2 linked regions of the Homo sapiens genome follow. The protein of the gene in region 2 purifies or fractionates together with the protein of the main gene of each other region. This does not show direct contact. Each region holds a gene or a part of one and is shown on either strand. Other genes may lie near its edges.

What was found.
Region 1: the proteins of USP18 (region 2) and TTC1 purify together in Homo sapiens (affinity purification with a luminescence readout; one large-scale study listed by IntAct). This does not show direct contact.

The regions. Positions count from the first base shown.
Region 1 is NC_000005.10:160,046,980-160,050,638, forward strand, and holds part of TTC1 (tetratricopeptide repeat protein 1), read left to right. Parts: intron 1-2,534; coding exon 2,535-2,683; intron 2,684-3,659.
Region 2 is NC_000022.11:18,167,079-18,170,737, reverse strand, and holds part of USP18 (ubl carboxyl-terminal hydrolase 18), read right to left. Parts: intron 3,484-3,659; coding exon 3,404-3,483; intron 2,849-3,403; coding exon 2,702-2,848; intron 895-2,701; coding exon 799-894; intron 1-798. UniProt on the Homo sapiens protein: Interferon-induced ISG15-specific protease that plays a crucial role for maintaining a proper balance of ISG15-conjugated proteins in cells. Regulates protein ISGylation by efficiently cleaving ISG15 conjugates linked via isopeptide bonds.

The DNA of each region.
Region 1 (3,659 bases), on a different chromosome or scaffold from region 2:
CCAGCCTGGGTGACAGAGCAAGATTCCGTCTAAAAAAAAGAAATTGGAGCAACAAAAATGCAATTAAGGGAAACAAAAGGAGTATTTTCATAAAGATAAAAGCCAAAATTCATGAATTTTAAAATATAAAACTAATAAATACATGCCATGTGTATGGCAGAGTTTCTGTCTTCAACTCTGACTTCTACCCTGTAGTCTAGTGTCCTGTATCCCACTGCAAAGTTCTTTCTTCTTGGATGTCTGGTAGGCACCTCAGATTTAACGTGCCCAGCCCCCACACACACACAAAACTTGCAGTTAGTTTTTTCCATTCTAATAAATGACATTACCATCTGTCCCCTTGCTTAAGTTAAACCTTTGGAGTCATCCCTGATTGTTCTTTCGTGTCACATGGCTAATTGATTAATTAGCAAGTTCCATGGGCTCAAATTTAAAGACATATTTAATGTAATCCGGCTGCTGTTTTCCATCTCTACTACTTCCAGCTTAGACCAAGCCAACATCTTCTCTCATCTGGACCACTGCATTAGCTTTCCAGCTGATCTCACAGCTTTCAGTCTTGCCCCACCCGCCAACACTACAGCCAAAGCAGTCCTTCAAAAATGTAAATCAGAGTATGTCTGAAGCTTGCTTGAAAACTTTCCAGTGGCTTCTCATCACACTGAGGAAAAAGTCCAAACTCCTTTCCCTGGCCAGGAAGGTCCTCCATGGCCCTACATTTCAGCCTCTGATCCCCAGCCTGATAACTCACATGCCAGAGTTATTCTTGTTGGTCCCTCTTCCTGGCACGCTCCTCCTTAGCCTTTCACATGGCTGGCCTCTCTCACATAGTCCCTCTTCATATTCTGAGACCACTTTCTGAAGTTACCTCATTTCTCGCTTCACTTGTATTTCCATGACCTTGTTTTATTTTTCATTATAGTACTATGGCTATTGAAATTATATACCTGTCTGTTCTTGCCTACTAGAATAGCATAAGGCTTCATGAGAACAAGGACTGTGTCTGTCTTGTTTCCCACTATAGCCCAGAGACATACTACATTGGACGTATATATTAAGTACTAAATAAATGTTCACAGAAAGCATGAATTTAAAAATTAAGGATAGATTATGAGAAAAGAAAAAAGTTCTAGAGCCAAGACATTGCTTTTTTTTTTTTTTTTTTTTTTTTTTTTTTTTTTTTGGGACAGAGTATTATCTCTCTGTTGCCCGGGCTGGAGTACAGTGATGCAATCGCCACTCACTGCACGCAACCTCCGCCTCCTGGGTTCAAGTGATTCTTATGCCTAAACCACCCAAATAGCTGGGATTATAGACCCACACTGCCACGCCCAGCTAATTTTTGTATTTTTAGTAGTGATGGGGTTTCGCCATGTTGGCTAGGCTGACGGTCTCAAAGTCCTGACCCCAATTGACCTGCCTGCCTCGGCCTCCCAAAGTGCTGGGATTATGGGCCTGAGCCACCACACCCGGCCAGCACTGCTTTCTAATAGAAAAAGAAACAACTTGGAAGAAATTAGAAGAAATGCAGTATGTTGAACCAAAACATAGCAAAGGATTATTAGAAGGGCAGCTGATGCTGGATAAAGGAAAAGATATTATGCATCAACCACCTCATAGTGCTGGAGCAGTAGTTTGAGGGTTGAAGGAACAGTGAGGATTTAACTAGAAATATAATCTTAGTACTCAAGACCTAGAAAAAAGAGAATGATAGTCTGCCACCAGATTGGTTTCCCTTAACTCTTTAATTTGTATCTTCAAATTCTCTCTCACCTAGCCTGGCCAACATAATGAAACCCCATCTCTACTAAAAATACAAAAATTAGCCGGGCATGGTGGCGCATGCCTGTAATCCCAGCTACGTGGGAGGCTGAGGTAGGAGAATCGCTTGAACCTGGGAGGAGGTGGTTGTAGTGAGCCAAGATCACACCACTGCACTCCAGCCTGGGTGACAGAGCGAGACTCCGTCTAAAAAAAAAAAATTCTCTCTCACTCTTTCACTGCGCACTTGAACTCTGTTCTGGCCTGTCCTGGACTGGGTAAATGACAAGTAGGCAAAAACCAGGACTTGGAGTATAGACCAGGATATGGCAAACTACAGCCACAAGCCAAATCCAGCCTGCCACCTGTTTTTGATAGCCTAAAAGCTAAGAATGGTTTTTACAGTTTTAAATCATTGGAAAGCAAAATATTTCATGATAATGTGAAAATTATGTGAACTTAAATTTTAGTGTCCATAAATAGTTTATTGGAACACACCTATCCTTTTTTGTTTACATATTATCTGTGCCTGCTCTCGTGCTACAATAGTATCATTGAGGAGCTGCGACACAGATGGTCTGTCTGACCCACAAAGCCTACAATCTTTACTATCTTGCTCTTTATAGAAAAAGTTTTCCAGCATCAGGTATACACTTGGCAAATGACTCTTCCTTTCGTATCCTTGGAGGATGATTGATGAAGGAATCTGATATAGCCAAAGATATGTAGGCCATTTTTCTTTGTGATAAAAATTATTTCTTCTCTTTTTACAGCAATTCAATTAAACCCCAGCTATATCAGGGCAATATTGAGGAGAGCAGAGTTGTATGAGAAGACGGACAAGCTAGATGAAGCCCTGGAAGACTATAAATCTATATTAGAAAAAGATCCATCAATACATCAAGCAAGAGAAGCTTGTATGGTAAAACCTAAAATTTTAAAAATATTTTTCCTTCTATTCTTTGTGTTGCTACCCAGTGAGTCCTAAATAATCCTTTCAGACACAATTAAATTCCATTTCTGTGCTTTTGAGGAGCTTATCAAGATATATGGGAGGCCAGGCGCAGTGGCTCTTGCCTGTAATCCCAGCACTTTAGGAGGCCAAGGAGGAGAGATCACTTGAGGCCAGGAGCTCGAGACCAGCCTGGCCAACACAACAAAACCCCATCTCTTCTAAAAATACAAAAAATTAGCCGGGTGTGGTCGTACACATCTGTAATCCTAGCTACTCGGGAGGCAGGAGAATTGCTTGAACCCAGAAGGCAGAGGTTGCAGTGAGCTGAGATCATGCCACTACACTGCAGCCTGGGCAACAGAGAGGATCATTGAGCCCAGGAGTTGGAGGCTGCAGTGAGCTGTGACTACATCACTGCATTCCATCATGGGCAACAGAGTAAGACTTTGTATCTTAAAAACAAACCAACAGGCTGGGTGCAGTGGCTCACGCCTGTACTCCCAGCACTTTGGGAGGCCGAGGAGGGCGGATCACCTGAGGTCGGGAGTTCGAGACCAGCCTGACCAACATGGAGAAACCCTGTCTCTACTAAAAATACAAAATTAGCTGGGTGTGGTGGCACATGCCTGTAATCCCAGCTACTCGAGAGGCTGAGGCAGGAGAATCGCTTGAACCCAGGAGGTGGAGGTTGCAGTGAGCTGAGATTGCGCCACTGCACTCCAGTCTGGGCGACAGTGTGAGACTCTGTCTTAAAAAAACAAAAAATACAAATGAATTTAAAAAAAAGTTAAAAATACAAATATAGCACTGTAAACATCTGATATGTATCCTTTCAAACTTTTTTCTGTATATATTTATTTGTTAAATTTGTATTGATGCCCTCCTTTAGTGTAGACTTTCTATTAAGAACTGGAAACAGAGCCAAACAAAACTTTTTTTTTTT
Region 2 (3,659 bases):
CACTCTGGAGATGAAGTCTACTTGGAATGAGAGAGTCAGAGAAATGTCAGGGCTAGCAACGCGTTCTTCCCAAAAAGAGGGGAGCGGGGCGACATCACGGAGTTCAAGGCTCCTGTTCGCCGAATCTGCTGAGCTCCTCTGAGAATAATGCAAAACTTGGCTATTCTACCACCATGTGGCCCCCCACAAGAGGCACAAGGGCACAGGGCTCTGCACAGGTACCAGGACCCAGGGAGCCACCGCGTCTGCTCCAGGGAGCTGGTCTCGCCTGGAGGGAAACGCCCTGCCGGCTGCTCTCAGGCGCCCTCCTGCAGTCCCTCTCAGTGATGCGACATGAGAAGCCACATCCACGGCTCCAGATATCAGAACCACAGCGTCCCAGATACTAGCCAGACCCAGATTCCCTTTCTCACCCACCATGGGGTGTCCTCGGGGCCTCTGATGATTCTATCAGGAAATCCACGGGGGGCAACCCCAGACTAGTGAAGGACAGATGACCCCTGAACAGCACGGGTTTGGACTGTATGGGTCCGCTTATACACAAATTGTTGTAAATAAATACAGTCTGCCCTCCCCCATAGGCACGAGTTCCACATCTGCAACCAAATGCTCATCAAAAATAAAGTATCCCAGATGCACAACCGCATAGATGAGGGACTGACTTTTCCTATACGTGGGTTCCACAGGGCCGACTGGGTGTGACTTGAGTGTGTGTGGATTTTGGTAAAAGCAGGGGTCCTGGAACAAATCCCCCATATGCACCGAGGGACAGCTGAGTCTGATTTAGGGAATGAGTACCTGTTTCCCACGGGTCTTCTTCCCACAGTTCTCACAGAAGCACTTGCTTTTGCTTGATAACTCCCTGGGCTGGAAGAAGCAGTGCAGGGCGTCCTCCTGTCCCACCCAAGAGAACAGGGAAAAAGCAGCGTTGGTATTTCCCACCTAGAATACTATATTCATCTGTTCTCACACTGCTGTGAGACAATAGCTGAGACTGGGTAATTTATAAGAAAAGAAGTTTGATTGGCCCATGGTTCTGCAGGCCAACCGGAAGCATGGCAGCATCTGCTTCTAGGGAGGCCGCAGGAAGCTCCCAATCATGGCGGAAGGCCAAGCAGGAGCAGGTGTCTTACCTGGGAGGAGCAGGTGTCTTACCTGGGAGGAGCAGGTGCAAGAGACCAAGTGGGGAGCTGGAGTGCAGGGGCGCGATCTCAGTTCACCGCAATCTCCGCCTCCCGGGTTCAAGCGATTCTCCTGCCTCAGCCTCCTAAGTAGCTGGGACTACAGGCTGCGCCACCACGCCCAGCTAATTTTTTTATGTTTTTAGTAGAGACAGGGTTTTACCATGTTGGCCAGGCTGGTCTCAAACTCCTGACCTCAGGTGATCCACCCACCTCAGCCTCCCAAAGTGCTGGGATTATGGGCGTGAGTTACCACACCCAGCCTGGCTCCACACTTTTAAACAACCAGATCTCATGAGAGCTCACTGTCACAAAGACAGCACCACGGGGGATGGTGCCAAACCATTCACGAGAAACCCTCCCCCATGATCCAATGTCCTTCCACCAGGCTTTACCTCCAACACTGGGGATTACAATTGAACAGGAGATTTTTGGGCAGGGACACAGTCCCAAACTGTATCAGTTACAGCCTCCCCACACTTTGCAGCTGAGGGTTTCAGCTTTTCTTCTGGTTCTCCTCATATCCCCCTTAATGCCTGGCCTGGTGTGGTCCACTTGGCAGGATCTCAAAGGGCACCTACTGACTGGAGGAACAAAACAGGAGGGGGCTCCTATTAAGGGAGCAGTATGAGGGAAGTGGAGGTAGGAGGGAAAAACATTTTTGCCAAACAAAGGAGAAATTGGCCAGTGCCATGAAAATGAAATAAGTGACTTTCCAGAAGCCAGAGATAGATCAAAGAGGCAAGGGGGAATTGGCCACACTGTGCTGTGTGGTGTAATGGTTTGAGGGTTTGTCCTCCCCAAAACCCAGGTTGAAACTGAATCCCCAGTGTGGCTGTATGGAAAGGTGGGGACTTTGAGAGATAATTGGGGAGGGCAAGGTGGCTCATGCCTGTAATCCCAGGGAGGCTGAGGCAGGTGGATCATGAAGTCAGGAGTTTCAGACCAGCCTGGCCAACATGGTGAAACCCCATCTCTACTAAAAATACAGAAATTAGCTGGGCATGGTGGTGGGCACCTGTAATCCCAGCTACTTGGGAGGCTGAGGCAGGAGAATCACTTAACACCAGAGGCGGAGGTTGCAGTGAGCTGAGATTGTGCCACTGCACTTCAGTCTGGGCAACAGAGGAAGACTCTGTCTCCAAAAAAAAGGGGGGGGGGAGGTTATTGCATCATGAGGGCACAGCCCTCATAAATGAATTAATCCACTCATGGATTAATGGGTTAATCGGTTATCCTGGGAGTGGGACTGGTGGCTTCATACGAAGAGGAAGAGAGATTTGAGCTGGCACATTAGCATGCTCAGCCCCCTCGCCATGTGATGCCCTGCACTGCCTCGCCTCAGGACTCTGAGAGTTCCCACCAGCAAGCAGGCCCTCACCAGGTGCAGCCCCTCAACCTTGACTTCCCAGCCTCCAGAACTGTAAGAAATAAATTACCTAGTCTCAGATATTGAGTTATAACAACAGAAAATGGACTAACACATACAGGGGCAGCAAATACCAAGAGAATCCCCTTACCAGTGTCTTCAGGGGCTTTGAGTCCACATCAAAAAGAGAAAGTGGGAGGGTGAGCATGCTGCTGTTTCTGCTACTCTCCATGGCACAGTCAACGCAAATCAAGGAGTCCTTCACCCGGATCGTATACAGGGCCTGCAGTCTCTCCACCTGCAAGAGGGAGAGCGGAGAGGTGAGATGGGAACACCACCATAAGCCAGGTCAGGCCAACTGCCAGAAGGTGGAGCCAAGAGACAGAAGCTCCTCACAAAGGTGCAAAATAATACCAGTAACAATATTATGAAACTGTGATAAGTGTTTTATGTGGATTAACTCTTTTTTCTTTTTTTTTTTTTTTTTTTTGAGACAGAGTCTCGCTCTGTCACCCAGGCTGGAGTGCAGTGGCGCGATCTCGGCTCACTGCAAGCTCCGCTTCCCGGGTTCACGCCATTCTCCCGCCTCAGCCTCCCGAGTAGCTGGGACTACAGGCTCCCGCCACCACGCCCAGCTAATTTTTTGGTATTTTTAGTAGAGACAGGGTTTCACTGTGTTAGCCAGGATGGTCTCGATCTCCTGACCTCGTGATCCGCCTGCCTCAGCCTCCCAAAGTGCTGGGATTACAGGGGATTAACTCTTTTATTCCTCTACACACTACGGGAACAACAGCTGAATGAGTGAAATGAGCAGCATCTTAAGCTTCCGAGTGCTCTGGTTCTAGGTTCTTACCAAGTGCACATCAGTGATCTGGTCCTTAATCAGGTTCCAGAGTTTGAGGTACAGTTGGGCAGCATCATGTTGGACAAACACTGGCCACAGAGAAAAGGAACAGCCAATTAGTGAGGTCTTCAGAGTCGCTTCTCATGCCCTGGTACTTAGACACACATGAACACTCATCACTTTGTCTCTTCCTAGCCCTCCACCCCACTGCAAGGCTAAGTTGGCACGACAGAAGAAGTGATCAATAAATGAACAGTAAGTTTGG